Regions from separate parts of the Homo sapiens genome. Here region 1 is linked to region 2. Evidence: fine-mapped expression QTL. A gene starts in region 2. The other region holds a variant in brackets. All regions are shown on one strand. Distances are between the middles of the regions. Region 1 overlaps NAP1L4 (nucleosome assembly protein 1 like 4). Region 2 holds the start of PHLDA2 (pleckstrin homology like domain family A member 2).

Evidence for each region. PIP is the estimated chance that this variant, and not a neighbour inherited with it, causes the effect.
Region 1: its variant is the best candidate, but not a certain one, in a credible set for the expression of PHLDA2 in whole blood (INTERVAL, PIP 0.71).

What each region holds. Positions count from the first base shown.
Region 1 is chr11:2,974,134-2,982,462 of GRCh38, forward strand. NAP1L4 (nucleosome assembly protein 1 like 4) reads right to left here. Exons shown (of 16, transcript NM_005969.4): 2 at 5,074-5,104; 3 at 4,151-4,209; 4 at 1,891-1,990. The coding sequence starts at 5,087. Among named protein-coding and RNA genes, the nearest start is that of NAP1L4, 14 kb to the right of the region's middle. The variant G/A (reference allele first, on the strand shown) is at 3,259.
Region 2 is chr11:2,926,129-2,934,457 of GRCh38, forward strand. It overlaps PHLDA2 (pleckstrin homology like domain family A member 2), which reads right to left and starts at 3,292. Exons shown (of 2, transcript NM_003311.4): 1 at 2,768-3,292; 2 at 2,145-2,539. The coding sequence starts at 3,236. The coding sequence ends at 2,778. RefSeq lists enhancers at 2,569-3,177, 3,178-3,787, 3,788-4,396, 7,411-8,023.

The DNA of each region.
Region 1 (8,329 bases), 48 kb after region 2:
TTTTTTTTTAATTATACTTTAAGTTTTAGGGTACAAATGCACAACGTGCAGGTTTGTTACATACGTATGCATGTGCCATGTTGGTGTGCTGCACCCATTAACTCGTCATTTAGACAAAGGATGTTAAACAAACTGGACCCTAGTGTGCCCCCAACAGTCCTTCAATCATTCACACCAACTACACCCAGCCCTCTGCCGGCACTTTTCCTGCAATATGGCTAATATGGAACCACTTCTAGTCCCACATAAACCTGATCCCACTCAAGCAGTTCCTCTCACAGAATGCCACCCCACCAACCCAGTTTCTAAAGCGAGAAAACTAGAAACCATTACTCATTCTCATTCTTGCCACTCCCACTCAGTATCACCCCATCCCATCAATCTAGTCTGCAAAAAAAATAACATCAAAACACCTTGCCCACTAAGTAATCTCTGAGAAGCTTCTAAATGGGCAAAGCAAACTCTGAATGTCACCTTCTAGGCCAGGCGCAGTGGCTCATGCCTATAATCCCAGCACTTTGGGAGGCCAAGGTGGGCAGATCACCTGAGGTCAGGAGCTGGAGATCAGCCTGGCCAACATGGCAAATCCCTGTCTCTACTAAAAATACAAAAACAAAACAAAACAAAACAAACAAAAAAACACGTGCAGCAAATCACCATGGCACATGTATACCTATGTAACAAACCTGAACACTCAGCACATCTACTCCAGAACGTACAGTGAAATAAATAAAACTACAAAAAACTAGCTGGGAGTGGTGGCGTGCACCTGCAATTCCAGCTACTCAGGAGGCTGAGGCAGGAGAATCACTTGAACCCGGGAGGCGGAAGTTGCACTCCAGCCTGGATGACAGAGCAAGAGTCTGTCTCAAAAAATAAAAATAAAAAATAAATGTCCCCTTCTTGTCGTAATAGCCCTGGCAGTCCTGACTGGGGAAACCAGCTGGAAGGTGGGGCCTCCTGGGAGACCAAGCCCTGACCCAATTATAGATGGAAGCCCAGTAACAGCTCATCCCTTTAAAAAAAAAAAAAAAAATTGCCATGCATGGTGGTGCATGCCTATAGTTCCAACTACTCTGGAGGCTGAGGTAGAAGGATTACTTGAGCTCAGGAGTTCAAGGTTACAATGAACTATTACATGCCACTGCACTCCAGCCTGAACAACAGTGAGACTCCAACTCAAAAACCAAAAATTCCTTCCAGAAGTAAGAGAGGTCCTGACAAGAGCCATCCTAGGATTCTAGGATCACCACCCTTATCATTTTCATAGTGCAATACATCTAGCACATAGGCCTCTCTTAAGAAAGCAAAGGTGTCAGCCAGGCACGGTAGCTCACCCGTTATCCCAGCATTTTGAGAGGCTGAGGCGGGAGAACCAATTGAGGCCATGAGTTCAAAACCAGCCTAGGAAATACAGTGAGACCCCATCTTTTTTTTTTTCTTAAAGACAGTCTCACTGTCACCCAGGCTGGAGGGTAGTGAAAACTCATAGGCATGCGGCACTATGCCCAGTTTTTTTTTTTTAAGGTGTTGGTGTCACAGGCTCATGTGGGTAAGTCAGGAAGGAGTGGTTCTCTTAGTTTAACTTAGGAGCCACCAGCTGTCCTCTCCAACTCAGATGATCTGTGAAGTCCTCTAGCCCTCCACAGGATGGCACTGTGCACTTCCTATCAGAACTGACAGGTCACGCTACTCCATCCACCAGGCAAACTCTCAGCCTAGGCACCGGGTAGGGTCACTCCTCTCATATCCCAGTGCCTGTCTCTCATAGACAATGTCTTGGAACGAAAAAAACATTTAATCCTGTTCTGGGGAACTGAAAAGTGGTTTTTCCTTTATTTTCCTTTTGTTTCTCCAAATTGCATGAGACCCTATTCACAGCACACTTACGTTTCGATGTAGCTGGAAGGGGTGTGAGGGACATTGTCAAGTCGCTCCTGTAAAGCTGCCAGAACTCGAGGATTCTGCATCACCTGATCTGTGAGCTTTTCTATGAAGAGTTAAGACCAAACATATTTAAAATATGCCCACCACACACAATAGCCAAGAGTCAAAAATTAGTAACATATCTACTTAGCTTTGCCTAGATTTACATCTACTAATTTCTAAATACATACACCAGTGACTTCTTAAACATGTTTTGAAAATAATTAAAATTTATTTTAAGAGCATTTAACACTCTGGGTTAATCACCTGATGGGTAGTTACAAATTTACTGAATAAACACCTAGAGAGTCCTGGCTCTCACCAGGACTGTGGCTGTTTAAGCACCAGACTTAAACAACTGAGGACATCATTAATGTAAGTTCACATGGTCTACCCCCAAGTCCCATGGTGGTGTCCAGAAGCCACGAACAGAGATGAGATCAGTTCCTCAAAGTAAAAGAGCATCCACTAGCTCCCTTGCTCACTGTGGTGCCATAGACTTCACAGTCCAGGAGAGCCCAAGGCTCACTAGCTCTCTGCCAGCACTGTTCCCTAAGTTTTCTTTGCATGTGCTACTCGCCTCTGCCTTGAATGTCCTTCTGCCCAAACCCACCTCCCTCCAGGAAGCACTTCTGACCATTCCACCCCACTTAGGGCTAACCTACATGTGTAGTGAGCTCACAATACCAAGCTGTTTGTATTTATAAGCCCATTTCCCAATAAACCAATGAATGAGATCCTGACAAGGTAGTGACTGTCCTTTTACCCAGTTGTGACTATGAAGTGGCAGACATCTGGCTCATGACACAGACTCTTAACAATCTCCCTCTTAATGACACAATACAGAAATCCAAACCCAGCGCCCTTCCCTTGCTTAGAGCCAGTACATACCCGAGTATTCTCCCATCCCGAGTATTCTCCCATCCCGAGTATTCTCCCATGATGTGGGTAAGTCAAACACACCAAGCAGGCACTCAATTTTAAACATTCATAATAGAACTGCAAACACAACCACTAACATGAAGCACATGAAGTGTATTTAAGGTACGTAATTTGTATATATAAAACTGTGTACACATGTGTAGTATATAAATACTACATGCATATACAAACACATATGAATGGGTGCTAAAACCTCCGTGTGAAAGTTTGCTGAAGAGGAAGAGGATATCTACACGTGCCTGACAGATTGCTTCCAAGGTGAAAGGACCTTGGTAACAGAGAAGTCTGGCAGGCACTGTCTTAATCATCAATCTCAGTGTCCTTGGGCAGGTGCCGAGCCAACACCCTGTGCCTCCGGAACCAACGACCACTGCATCATGTTACCTGTGT[G/A]CCCTTCTTGCCAAAATGTTTACCCTGAATCTCATCAGGAAGAAACGACTGGGCAAATCCAGACTGTGAGCATTCTATAAGACAACAGTGGCCCAGAGCGCTGATATGTTGATGTATTAATAAAAGATGCAAAAGGTAGGGAGATGACTCTAGAACAAAACAAAACGCATGATCCTTGAATAGGTGCTAGATTCGGGCGTGGGGTAAAAATTGCTGAGAAAACCAGGGAAACAGGAGCATGACTGTCTATTAGAGAATGGTATTGCTCCAGTGTTAAGTTTCTTGGTAATGACATTGTAGAATTGTTTTAGGAAAATAGATATCCACCACTTGCTTTCAAACAGTTTGGAGGGAGTGGGGAGTACAGATATAGTTTTTTTTAATGGTGGAAAAATATCACATCTGTGAATTTATGAACAAAATGACATTCTTAGGATTTGCTTTCCAAAGGAAGGAAAGTAAAGGGTATAGACTTAAAAAAAAAAAAAAAAAATGGCCAGGAGCAGTGGTCTGTGCCTGTAGCCCCAACTACCTGGGAGGCTGCGGCAGGAAACTGCTTGAGCCCAGGAGTCCAAGACCAGCCTGGGTAACACAGCAAGGCTCCATCTCAAAAATAAGAAAAAAGACTGGTCATTTGTTAATCAATACTAAAGCTCACTGATGGTAGCTACAAGAAGGTAGACTGTACTATTACTCTCTTTACTACTGTAGAGTCTGAATTCCTATAATAAATACATCTTTTGTTAATGAGATACTGATTTTTCATTTTAATTACTCTAGCTTTCCTAAAACCACTGCAGTACAGGAATCCTTTACTTGCATTAATAAATGTTTCCAGAGAGAGGAACGTTCCCCATACTGGATGCAAACTCTCCATGTGCAGTGGACTGACCTGTGTTACTTGCATTTTTAGCAGCTTCCACGGAATCTGAAGGAACCCCATCTGAAAAACTAAAACAACAGTATGTTTAAAAAGTATTACTGTAAAGAAAGTTCCAAAGACATAGCACAAATGGACATGTTTCTTATTCAATATATTAAGAGGTATCTGTACAGTGACGTCAGATTTGGGCAGAAGAAAACTACCAATGTGCATGTTATCTCAGAGGCTGTCCTCTCTGCTATAAAAATATTCTACTACGTAACATCCCCTCTCCTCTCCCAAACATAAAGCCCTACAAAGTTCTTATTTCCAACCTTAGCCAAAGCTTCTTAGCTCTCATTTCTACAGCTTCTTTCCTCAAAAAATCTGCTCCCAGCCCTCAAACCAAACCCATCAACCAACGAACATGTTACTGTTTGGTCAGCTGCTCATGTGATCAGAGCAAGGCAGTCTTACCAAGTTAAGACAGTGCCCAAAGTGGCTTTGTAAAATTAGCCACAACAAGTGTAAAATGAGCCATGAAACAGTTTTTAAAGATGCCTGGACACACCTCCCTCACAAAAAATAAACATCAAATAATATACACAACTAAAAGTAACCCTCAATCCACAAAACAAAATCTTCCACTTGATCACTGACAACTACAGACTGTTAGGAGAGTGTCAAAATTACCTAACTTCACCCCAGGGGTGTTAAAGCATGGAGAGCAAAACGATTGCTTTCCATAAAAGATCTGTAGTGTCAATGTCTGAGGCACTGTTCATGTCGGAAGTAATTTCTTTACGTGCTCAAATACATACACAAGAAATGAGCCATCAGCTAGACGCTGAAATGCATTTAACTTTGATTCTAATTATTTATTGAAAAATGGCTTGGCTGTTGCTCACCAACTGAATTTTAAACTCCAATAAACAAAGTCCACTTTGGCTTACCTGTGATCTGCCATCTGAATGTTTTTATCCCCTATAAATTAAAAAGAGTTGTAATAATTATATTCATAAGCAAAAATGTTTGTTCAATATACTTTTTAAACAACGGTTATCTGTGGGATGGAGTCCACTAGAAGGGACAGGAGGGAACTTTCTAGAGTGATGAAAATGTTCTAGATCTTGACTGAGGTTACCTGAGTATATACACTTGTTAAAGCTTATTAAACTATACACTTCAGATCTGTGCATTTCATCACACACAAACTTTACTCATAAAAAAATTTCTCGGCCTGGCGCGGTGGTTCACGCCTGTAATCCAAGCACTTTGGGAGGCCGAGGTGGGTGGGTCACTTGAGCTCAGGAGTTCGAGACCGGCCTGACCAACATGGTGAAACCCCATCTCTACTAAAAATACAAAATTAGCTGAGCGTGGTGGTGCACGCCTGTAATCCCCGCTACTCAGGAGGCTGAGGCAGAAGAATCACTTGAACCCAGGAGGCGGAGGTTGCAGCGAGCGGAGATCATGCCACTGCACTCCAGCCTGGGCAACAAGAGTGAAACTCCATCTAAAAAAAAAAATAAAATAAAATAAAATTATCTTATTGGCACTAAAATAACCAGACTTCAGAATAACATTAATTCTAATTTGCCTTATTTTTTATAATACATTCGGCAACACAAACATACATTAATGATAGCCCAACCATTTTAGAGTAAGTCAAAGCATTTACTGGTGTTTACACTTTCAAATTAACTTATGGGATTATTTTCTAATTGCATTTGTTTATTCCGTATCTTCCATTACTTCTACACTGAGGATGTATTGCTTGTGTAAAAACCTTGTGTAATATACTCAGTATTATTCCACTTTTAAAGATGATTATTTCTATATTGGTAGAATTAGATGACATTGTAACTGAATATTAAGGGTGTGTTCTAGGGCATTTACTTCTTAAATAGAAGAACTTGATATTAATAAAACTAAAAAAAAGTTATCATTTTTTTTGAGACAGGATCTCAGTCACCAAGGCTGCAGTGTAGTGATGCAATCCTGGCTCACTGCAGCCTCAACTTACTGGGCTCAAGCAATCCTCCCATCTCAGCCTCCTGAGTAGCTGGGACAACAGGCGCAGGCCACCATGCCCAGCTAATTTTATTTTTTGTAGAGATAGGGTCTGGCTAAGTTGCCCAGGCTGAGTCCCAAACTCCTGGCCTCAAGAGATCCTCCCACCTCAGCCTACCAAAGTGTTGGGATTACAGGTGTGAGTCAACACGCCTGGCCTATACAATTTCAAAATCTAATCTAAATGCATTTAAAGTAACAGCTAAATGCACAGCTTAAAAAGGTCCTTAAATGTAAAATAATACAGGTGTGGTTACGAAGTTCCTTAAACTCAGATGTGGGAAATACACCTGAGGGCCTCGCTAAACGGTTGTTCCAGCTGAAAACTGGCCAATGTTCATTCTTCAGTACCTGAGCAAAGCCCAAACCACTGAATCACATAGCTTTAGGGTAAAACCAACAACAAAAAAACCCCTCTATATTTAACAAAAACAGTTCTAATTATGATCTATGACTGTCCTGTATTTAACTCAACTACTTTTTTAAAATTTTTATTGTTTAGAAATAAAACGTGCTATTTTTAAGATTCAAAATACAACAAATATTACACATTGTCTTTTTCAAAAAAAATAAATTATGTTTTAATGAAGAAGATGAAAACCAAAAAGAAAAAAAAAATGCAGCAGGCACAGTGGTTCATGCCTATAATCCCAGCACTTTGGGAGGCCAAAGTGGGCAGATTAGTTGAAGCTCAGGAGTTTCAGACCAGCCTGGGCAACATGGGGAAACCTCGTCTCTACAAAAACAAACAAACAAACAAAATTAGCCAGGCGTGCTGGTGTGAACCTGTAGTCCCAGCTACTCAGGAGGCTGAGGCAGGAGAATCGCTCGAGCACAGGAGGCAGAGGTTGCAGTAAGCTGAAATAACACCACTGCACTCCCGCCTGGAAGACACAGTCAGACTGTCTCAAAACAAAAAGAAAAAAAAAAAAATGAGGCTGGACACAGCGGCTGATACCTCTGGTCGCAGCTACTTGAGAGGCTGAGACAGAAGCAACACTCGAGCCCAGGAGTTGGAGGCCTGGCGGCTGCAGTGACCTATGACTGCGCCACTGAACTCCAGCCTGGACAACAGAGCAAGTACCCTGTCTCAAAAAAAAAAAAAAAAAAAAAAAAAAAGGCAATAAACCCTACAATGGCTGGCTATGCTCACCACCATGACCACAGCAGCAACCCAAACCCAGCCCTAGTCAGTGAAGATTTAAAAACCCTTTAACGGAGGCCAGGTGTGGTAGCTCACACCTGTAATCCCAGCACTTTCGGAGGCTGAGGTGGGCGGATCACCTGAAGTGGGGAGTTCGAGACCAGCCTGACCAACATGGAGAAACCCGTCTCTACTAAAAATACAAAATTAGCCGGGCATGGTGGCACACGCCTGTAATCCCAGCTACTCGGGAGGCTGAGGCAGGAGAATCGCTTGAATACAGGAGGCAGAGGTTGCCGTGAGCCAAGATCAAGCCACTGCACTCCAGCCTGGGCAACAAGAGCAAAACTCCGTCTCAAAAACAAACAAAACACCCTTCAATGGTCCCCCGTCACCTTCTGCAGAATACACATTCCTACTGATTCAGGCCCTGTCTACCTCCCCACACTCATTCCCACTCACGCTCCTCCACCATGTTTGCTGCAATCACAGTATTCCTGAGGTTAGTTCCCTTCTCACATATTCTAAATGCAAGGTGTGAGACAGTCAGACTTCATAACAATTGTTTAAGGACAACATTCTAAGAGCTAAAACACCACTTACCAGCTGTTAAAGAATGAGGTGTTTTTTTCTGTTATATACCTTTGATAATGTCTCTATGAACATCTTGGCTTATATGGCTTCCCACTCCCAGTTATCCTTAATTGATATGGCAATAGCAGGACCGCTACAGTAGCATTTCTGGGTCAAAGAGCATGAATGGATTCTGATACATACTGCCAAAACAGTTACACAATAACATCAACTGTAATTTGGCTACTTAATTGAAGCTCTCTATTGCCTAAGAAATGTATCTCATAGCACCTTCCTTACCCCACACATACACACTAATTGCTGAAAGAAGCCTACTAACCTGGAAACATCTAACACTGTCAGTTTAATGGACAGATTCTTGTTGTCATCACCCTATCAGTAACACCTCGTAAAGACAC
Region 2 (8,329 bases):
CCAGAACCGCACCAGACACTGCCAGCCACCCGAACCCCAGAACCGCACCAGACAGTGCCAGCCACCCGAACCCCAGAACCGCACCAGACACTGCCAGCCACCCGAACCCCAGAACCGCACCAGACACTGCCAGCCACCCGAACCCCAGAACCGCACCAGACACTGCCAGCCACCCGAACCCCAGAACCGTACCAGACACTGCCAGCCACCCGAACCCCAGAACCGTACCAGACACTGCCAGCCACCCGAACCCCAGAACCGTACCAGACACTGCCAGCCACCCGAATCCCAGAACTGCACCAGACACTGCCAGCCACCCGAACCCCAGAACCGCACCAGACACTGCCAGCCACATGAACCCCAGAACTCCTCTGGTGTCCCCTTATCTCAGCCTCTTCATCCTACAGCTCAGTGGCCCCCAACATTTTCCGCACCAGGGACCAGTTTTATGGAAGGCAATTTTTCCACGGATGTGGGTGGGCCAGATGAAACTGTTTCACCCCAGATCATCTGGTATTAGATTCTCATGGGGAGTGCTCAACCTTGATCCCTCTTGTGCACAGTTCACAACAAGGTTCTCGTCCCTGTGAGAATCTACTGCTGCCGCTGATCTGGCGAGAGGTGGAATTCAGGCGGTCATGCTTGCCCCGCTGCTCACCTCCTGCTGTGCGGCCCAGCTACTAACAGGCTATGGACCAGTACCCATCCATGGCCTGGGAACTGGGGGTCCCTTCTATAGCTGATTTGCTGGCCAGGCCATGTACCGTTGCCTTCCCAGCCTCCTGACCACAGCACTTCCCGACCCCTCACCCCCACCCCCTGGTCCTGGGCTCTGGGGAGGAGAACTGGGCATGAGGAGGCCAGCCCAGCCGCTGTGACCGATTGACCCATCTGGAGAGGACAGGCTTTCCACAGCCTCAGCGAGGGTCTGCAGCTGCCCCTGAGACCATGAAGGCCGCCCCTCCTCTCCTCGGGCTGCTTTTAAAAGAAGCTGTTGAAACATGGACTCCCCAAACCTTAGAATTCCACTGTCCTCAGAATTTGAGGAATTCCAAAATTCCTCAAACAAGAAGTGGCCTCAGTGAGCCAAGGGCCATCCACCCTCTTCGCCTAAAGCTCAGGCCGGATCATGCCTATGCTTGAAGCACCCAGGGGCAAGGGCTCTCCTCTTGACCTTGGATATCCATCCAGGTGAGGCTCTGGTGGGCCAGCCAGGAGGCCCAGGAGCCCAGCCAGGCAGCGTCCTTGGCTGCTGTTTTCTGCTTTTTGCAGGAGCCCCTCCCCGATCTGCACAGGGGCTTCACAAATTGCGTTCGGGAGAAACTTCCTTGCAGGCAATAGTTTCTTCTGGACCTAGCACCAAGACTCCTGCGGGCCATGCAGCGAAGGGATAGCACCCTCCCCGCCCTGAGCCCAGACCAGCTACCAGGCTTCGTCGGCCTCCTAGCAACAGAGATTAGGGTCCAATTCTGGTACTTCTCTGCCTCCCCTACTGGCATCCCTCCAACCACGAAGGTTCCAGAAATGAAGGCCCCATTGTGGGGTGAGGAGTCATGCCTGTACCCCTTATCACCTCCTCAGCTTGTTCATCACCAGGAGCCCTTCTGGGTGGGGGACACACTTCCTGAACCCTAACTGTCTCAGACCATCCCTGTCTTTCAAAGAGCACAGCCAGACCGGAGGGCAGAAAGCCGTGGTCAGCTATCTCAGAAAGAGGGGCAGGGATTTGCTGCACTCAGGCCTCTCCACCCCAATGTCCTGGGCCAGTACCTGGAGGTGCAGGGACCTCTGCCTCCTGCCCCACCATCGGAGACAGCCCAGAACTCTCTCCTGTTCCCCCAGAAGCAAAGGCGACCCTGCCCGCCCCACACTGCGGGCACTGGCAAGGAGCGGCTGGCGGCGGGCAGCCAGAGGGCTGAGGGATTCCTTCTGGTCTGACTGCGCGGGTGGTTTGTGGGCAGGAAGTGCTGCTGGGGAAGGTTCCCCCACCACAGGCAGCAGCAGCTCGGACCCAGGGCCCTTGTCCTCCCCAGGTTCAATTCCTCAGGACACACCAAGGAGCAGAAGGTAGCCAGGGTCAAGCCCCAGGGCACTTCCTGGCCTCTGGGGAGGCTGCTTGGAAAAGAGGGTGTGGACCAGGCCCAGCAGATGACACGATTCATTTATTCATTCAAAGCCGGTTCCCAGCGCCTTTCACACCAGCCCCGCAGGACTGGATGAGGGTGTCCTGCCCGCCCATTCCTGGGCCTCCACCCTCCCAGCAGGAGTCTCACTGAGCCACAGCCGGATGGTAGAAAAGCAAACTGGCCAAGTGATTTATTTGCAATGGGCACAGTGATGCAAAAACAAGATATTAAGACTATAAAATATGTGACTACAAAGAACCAGCGAAATAAATACATAGATATTAGATAGTCCAATAACTTAAGGCGCCCGTGCAACGGAGCGAGGATCCGCGCGCACGGGAAGTTCTTCTGCTGCAGGGCTGGAGAGCGCCGGCCACGTCCTAGCCTCGGTCCGACTCGTCCAGCGTATGGCCCTGTGGGGAAAGGACTGGGTCAGAGAGCTGTGCCAGGGCCGGTCCGGGTCCAGCCTGAGGGGCCCCGAGACCCTGACGCGAGGGGGCCAGCGCGATTGCGGGGCGCCGGGTCCCCCAAGGAGGTGCAGCGCCCCCGCCCCGCCGTCTGGGGTTGAAGTGGTTTTTCCCAAAGGCCCCGGTCCCGGCTGTTAGGGCGCAGGGCTCGCCGGGACGCGGGCAGTCACTCACCGCGGCGGGCTCATGGCGTGCGGGGTTTGGGCTGCGGGGATGGCCTGGAGGGCTCCGAGGGCTCGGAGGGTGCGGCGGCCGCGGCAGCCACGGCGTCCTCGGCGGGTGCGGCGGGTGCGGTGCGTTCCTGGCGGCTGCGAAAGTCCTGCAGGGCGCGGCGGTTCTGGAAATCGATGAGCGCCAGCGCGATGGCCGCGTTCCAGCAGCTCTCGCCCGCGCAGCGGAAGTCGATCTCCTTGTGGTCGGTGGTGACGATGGTGAAGTACACGTACTTGCCCGTGCGCTCCACGCAGTCCACCTTGAGGATGGAGTGGAAGCGCAGCTCCTTGGGGCGCGCGCGGGGGCTGGCGGGGAACAGGCTCAGGCGGTCGGAGGTGAGCACCCCGCGCTTCTTCTTCCATAGCTGGAAGAGGCTGTCGCTGCGCTTCTCCAACTCGCCCTCGCGTAGCACCTCGTCGGGGGATTTCATGTCGTGCCGAGCGCGGGACTGGGAGCGGCAATGCGGGCGGTGACGGCGCCGGCTCTGCTCCTCGTGGCCCCGGCGCGGCCTTTATAGCTGCCCCTCCCCGCCCCGCCCCTCCCCGCCCCGCCCCGGCCCTCGGGCCACCCCGCCCGCCTGAGCCCCGCGCGCCCCGGGCCATACCCTCCCCAAGCCCAGCCGTCCGGGCCCGCACCGTCGCGTCCGCGCTCTGGTCGGTCCCCGGCCGTCCCCTCCCATCTCAGAAGCCCGCGCTCCTCTTGCCCCCCGTGCCCCAGCTGTCCGGCCCCGTGGGGTGACTCGAGGTCCCGCCCCGCCCGGGCGCTCGCCCGCACCGTCTCGCAGGCCGGCCCCGCGGAAGAATGCGCTGCAGCCAGCCCTGCCCGCGATGACTCACGCCGGGGAGCCCCGGGAAGCACCCGCGGGCCCGGGGCCGGCCCACCGTGGGGAGACAGCCGGGACCAGACCTTCACCCTCCAGGCGCCCCAAGTCCAGCCCTGCCGCTCTCGGGCTCCCGGGGCAGAAGGAGGGTCGAGGCCCCCTTCCTTACTCCCGAGCCCTGGCCGTTCCGTCCTGTTCGGGGGCCTTTCCCAGGGCCGCCCAGAGACCCTCTCCGAAAGTGGCCCTGCCCTAGCGGACCGAGCTCCTATCTTGCCACCCACGGGCTGCGCCAAGAACGACCACCTCTCTTAGCCTCGGTTTTCGCTTCTGTGAAATGGGAACAGTAACCTTTGCTGGATTAGGGAACACGTGGAAAGGGCTAGACCAGCAACCCATAGAGCTCAGAAAATGGAAGGGGAAGAGGAAGCCCGTTCTCCTCCCTGCGCCCTCGTAGTGTCCCGAACTGGGGTACGGACTGCTCCGACCGCGCCCCCACGACCCGGACCGGAGAGAGGTCCCAGGAGCTGAGGGGTTCGGGCTGGGCCGCGACGCCCGCTCTCTGGGATCAGCCTGGGGGCGAGGGTCGGCGGGGGCGGCTGAGTCATCGCTTTCCAGCTGGGCAGACGGGCGGTTTTATTTACCCTCTTCCTTTAAAGGGTTTAATAGACAGGAAGCGAAAGCCGGCTCTTCCCGGGTTCCCAGGGGTGGGGGTGGAGCCGGCCGAGAGGACCCCAGAGACCCCGGCTACTACTCCACGTCTCCCACCTTCCCGCACCCCTGCCCCCTAGCTGCGCCCTGGGGTGGTTACAGCAGGAAGTCCCAACTCTGGGGTCAGAATTGGCCTCAATGACGGGGCTCACGCAAAATGAAAACGAGAGTCCCCTGATTCAAAATGTATTTAAAATGTCAAGACAGTGGCAGCAGAGCGTAAAACCCAGACCTGGGACCAGCCCTACCTCCACCTGCCCTTCAGGGTCACTGTAAAGGATAAAGAGACGTCCGGCTCAGAGGAGCGCCCCAGACCCGGTTCTGTGAATGGCATGCAGGTAGCAGCTGCCCGGTGGTCCCACCGGTGTGGCCAGAGGACCTGGCAGTGGGCAGGGATGTGGTGTGGAGGGGCAGTGCCGGCAGAGGGCAGGGTTGGGCTGTGCCAGGGTTCTGGCCTGGGAGTGAGACACCTGCCTGGGGCCGGCGGGTCAACACTGCCCCCTACCTGACACCTGTCCTTGCAGCAGGGCTGGGATCCTGTGGTGAGGGAGCAGCAGGTAGGGTGGGTGGGTGAGGGGAGGTCAGCCTTTGGCGGGGAGAGGGGATTCGAGCATTGTTCCGGAGAGGCTGCAGGAAGGATTCGGACTCTGGTGTCCCTTCTTTTGCTTCCAGAGGGCCCTGGGCTGCCGGACAGTGGGACCTGGGCAAGAGGCACCTCTGGGCAGTGGGAGACCAGGAGAAGCGGCCGGGGGCAGAGCGCTCTGTCACTGCGCCAGCCCACAGGTGCCTGGAACACCTCCAGGCCCACCAGCCTGCCTACCCCATTGAGGGGCCAGCCAGTGGAACTTCGGCTCCAGGCAAATCCCCCGACACTCGTGGTTGCTTAAGCACCTACTGTGTGCCTGCAGGCCTGGCTGGTGCTGGGACCCCAGAGGAGGGGAGAGGAATCCCTCTAAACCCCAGGGGCACAGCAGGTACATGAGGATGGGGATAGGGGTCGGGGGTACTGGAGGCCAGGAGGACAGCTTGGAGGACTCTGTGGGGAGGGCGTGCCCTCGAAGATTCCAAGGAGACCTTGAAGGGCCAGTGGTGCCCGTATGCCACCACTGTGCCCAGCCTCCACCTAACCCAGAGAACTCCCCAAAGTGGGCACTCCAGCCCCTGTTCCACAGAAGAGGAAACTGGTTCAGGATGGAGAGGGCCTTGGGGAAGGGACAGAGAACAGGCAGGAGCAGATAAGGGGCTGAGAGAAATGAGGGGGAGGAAGAGGGTTTGGAAACCAGGTGAGGCCAGGTGAGGTGTGCTCCCCCAGCCCCGCCCAGCTCCTCTCTTTGCCTGTACCCCAGTGGCCCTCTCAAGGGAGGCTGGGAAACTCACTCCCCTGGGGGCAGGACTTACAACCCAGGGGTGATGCTCTGACAGGTGGGGCAGGAGCTGGGAGGCCAGGGGGCAGGGTGTGCAGCCGAGATTCAGAGGCCCTGCCCTCCCTAGGGGATTTCCTGCCCACTCAGCCCCTCTCTGCTATTCCCCTCATGGACACTGTGAAGACCTGGGGGGTATGGGGGTGGATGGCCCTTTAGGGGCTGCTGGAAATCAGGTCTGAGCCCTGGAGGCCAGGCCTCCCCAGGCAGCTTCTCTGCCCACAGTCCCTGCCCCAGGGGCTCAGTTGTAGTGGCCCTGGCCTCCCCAGCAGCTGCTAGACACCCTGGGCCCCTGCTCGGCCAAACCAGCCTGAACCTGGTTGCCAATGTGGGGGCTGGAGGGAGCCGACTCCCAAGCCTTACCAGCCCTGGACCAGCAGGTGACTTCAGGAGCCCCCAGGGTGTCTTTATGGACATGGGCAAAAATAAACCACGGCCTTAGGAGGTGAGAGGGGCTTGGAGGACACCATGCCAACTTGGCAGGTACTTGCACACAGGGGCTGCCCCATCCTCTCTGCGTCCACCATCCACCCGAGGGGCTTTACCACCACCACTAACTCACACTGCCGTCTGCCCCTCTGAGCCACCCGCCCTCTGCCAGCCCCCGCTCGGCCTCCCTTGCCTGAGGCCTGAGCCTCACCGCCTCACCTGGTCCCACCTGGGGCTGAGCGGTGCCCCCAGGAGAAGCACTGGCCCCAAGCTGCAGATGCAGAAAGGGTGGCTCAGAGAGGTGCAGTGACTTGTCAAGGTCACCTTTCCAAGGAGGGACCCTATCTCTATCCCCCAGAGCAGGCCTGCCTGAGGGTCCCCTCTGGAGGATGAGGGCTGTGACACTCACTTCCTGGGATGTGGGGGAGGGATGTTGAGGCAGAAGAGTGCTGACACAGGGACCCCACATGAGGGTCTTTTGAGGAATGCCCCTCCTAGAGCCATTTGATAGCCAAGAGCCTGGGAGCTTCTCCAGCACAGCACAGAGATTGGAACCCGGCGTGGATTCGGCCACACCCCATGGGACCTGCTTCTACGAGGGTTCTGGACCACTCACGTGCTGGAGGCGGAGGAACCACCTGCCGGAGAGATGCCAGGGCCAGGCACCGGCAGGAGAGTCCGTGTGGCCCTGCCCCGTGCTAGTTCTGTGCGGTCATTTCTCCCTGTTGAGACTGCTTTCTTGGGTTTGCAGGGAACACTGGGTGGGGGTTTCAGAGAGGTGGTGACTCACCCAGGTTACACAGTGGCCAGTGCGGCCACATCCACAGCTTCCCCGATTCTGTGGCACCCTGTGGCTCGGGGCAGGAAACAGCCCTGATGTTCTGTGACTGCTTCTCAGGATGGGGAGGGGGCTCTGCCTCGAGTTGGTGGTGTCAGGCAGCATCAGTCCAAACCGGGTTTACTGATATTTATCTGAGGGGCCACATCCAGGATTCATGCAGAGCCTGAGCCAAGGGCCCCCACCCCTGGGCAGGCATTGTACAGTCTGGGTGCCCAAACATCTGGCCTGGGACACTGGCTGCCCTGTCCAGCTGCCTGGACCCTTGGCACCGGAGCCCAGCTGTGTGAGGCTGTCAGCAGCTGGAGTAGGATGCGGGCACCTCTCCGAAACTCCCTGAGTGAGGTCACTTCCTTACGGTGACGAGGCCGGGCCCTCCAGGCACTTGCCCAACGAGCCTGGCCATCCTGCCAGCCTGTGAGGAAGCTGCGTGTCACAGGGCCCGGCCCAGTGCCTGGGGCTTGACACCACCCTCTTGTGGGAGGGGTTGCTCAGAGAGAGCCCTGCAGAAAGGCCCACTGCTCCTCAGTCAGGAAGGCCCACCCCTAGCTCCTCTCACCCCCTCCAGGAAGCCCTCTCAGATTGCCAGGGCGCACTCTAAGGCCTGCCTCCTGCCAACCACATACTGCTAGGCCATGGGTCTCCAAGCCTCCGCCCACCTGAGCCTGGGGAGGCTGGGGGAAGACCTAAGCTGCCTGGAGCTGCAGCACCTGAGCAGTGCACTGGTGCCACCTCACCTGAGCCCAACATGGCCCATGTGCCAGGGCCTGTGACTCAGGCTTGCCCTCTATCTGTCTCCTCCCAGCTGCAGCCTGAGGAAAGTGAGAGGCCCCGTGGCATGACCCACCTGGTTTTCAGACACTTGCTGTCAGCCTGATCTTGGCCTTGGAGGGCTGTGTTCTCTGTTGCTGTGTCTCTTCCTGAGCTCTTCCACTGGAGCCTGACAGGCAGGTCCTACCTCACAAGATGTTGGGGATTGATTGAGAAACCAGGAACACCCTTCTCCTTGGCCCCTGATGAGCTCCTGTTTATCCCTCAGTACCCTGCTCAGAAGCTATTATCAGCTCCTTAAATGCAGTGATAATGTTTTATTCTTTGGGAGCCCCAGGGATCAGCCCAGGCACTCAGGAAATGGCTAAAAAAGCATCCTGAGGCCGGGCTCGGTGGCTGACGCCTATGATCCCAGCAAGTTGGGAGGCCGAGGTGAGCAGATTGCTTGAGCCCAGAAGTTTGAGACCAGCCTGGACAACACAGCAAGACCCCCCCATCTCTACAAAAAAAAAAATAAAAATTAGCCAGGCATGGTG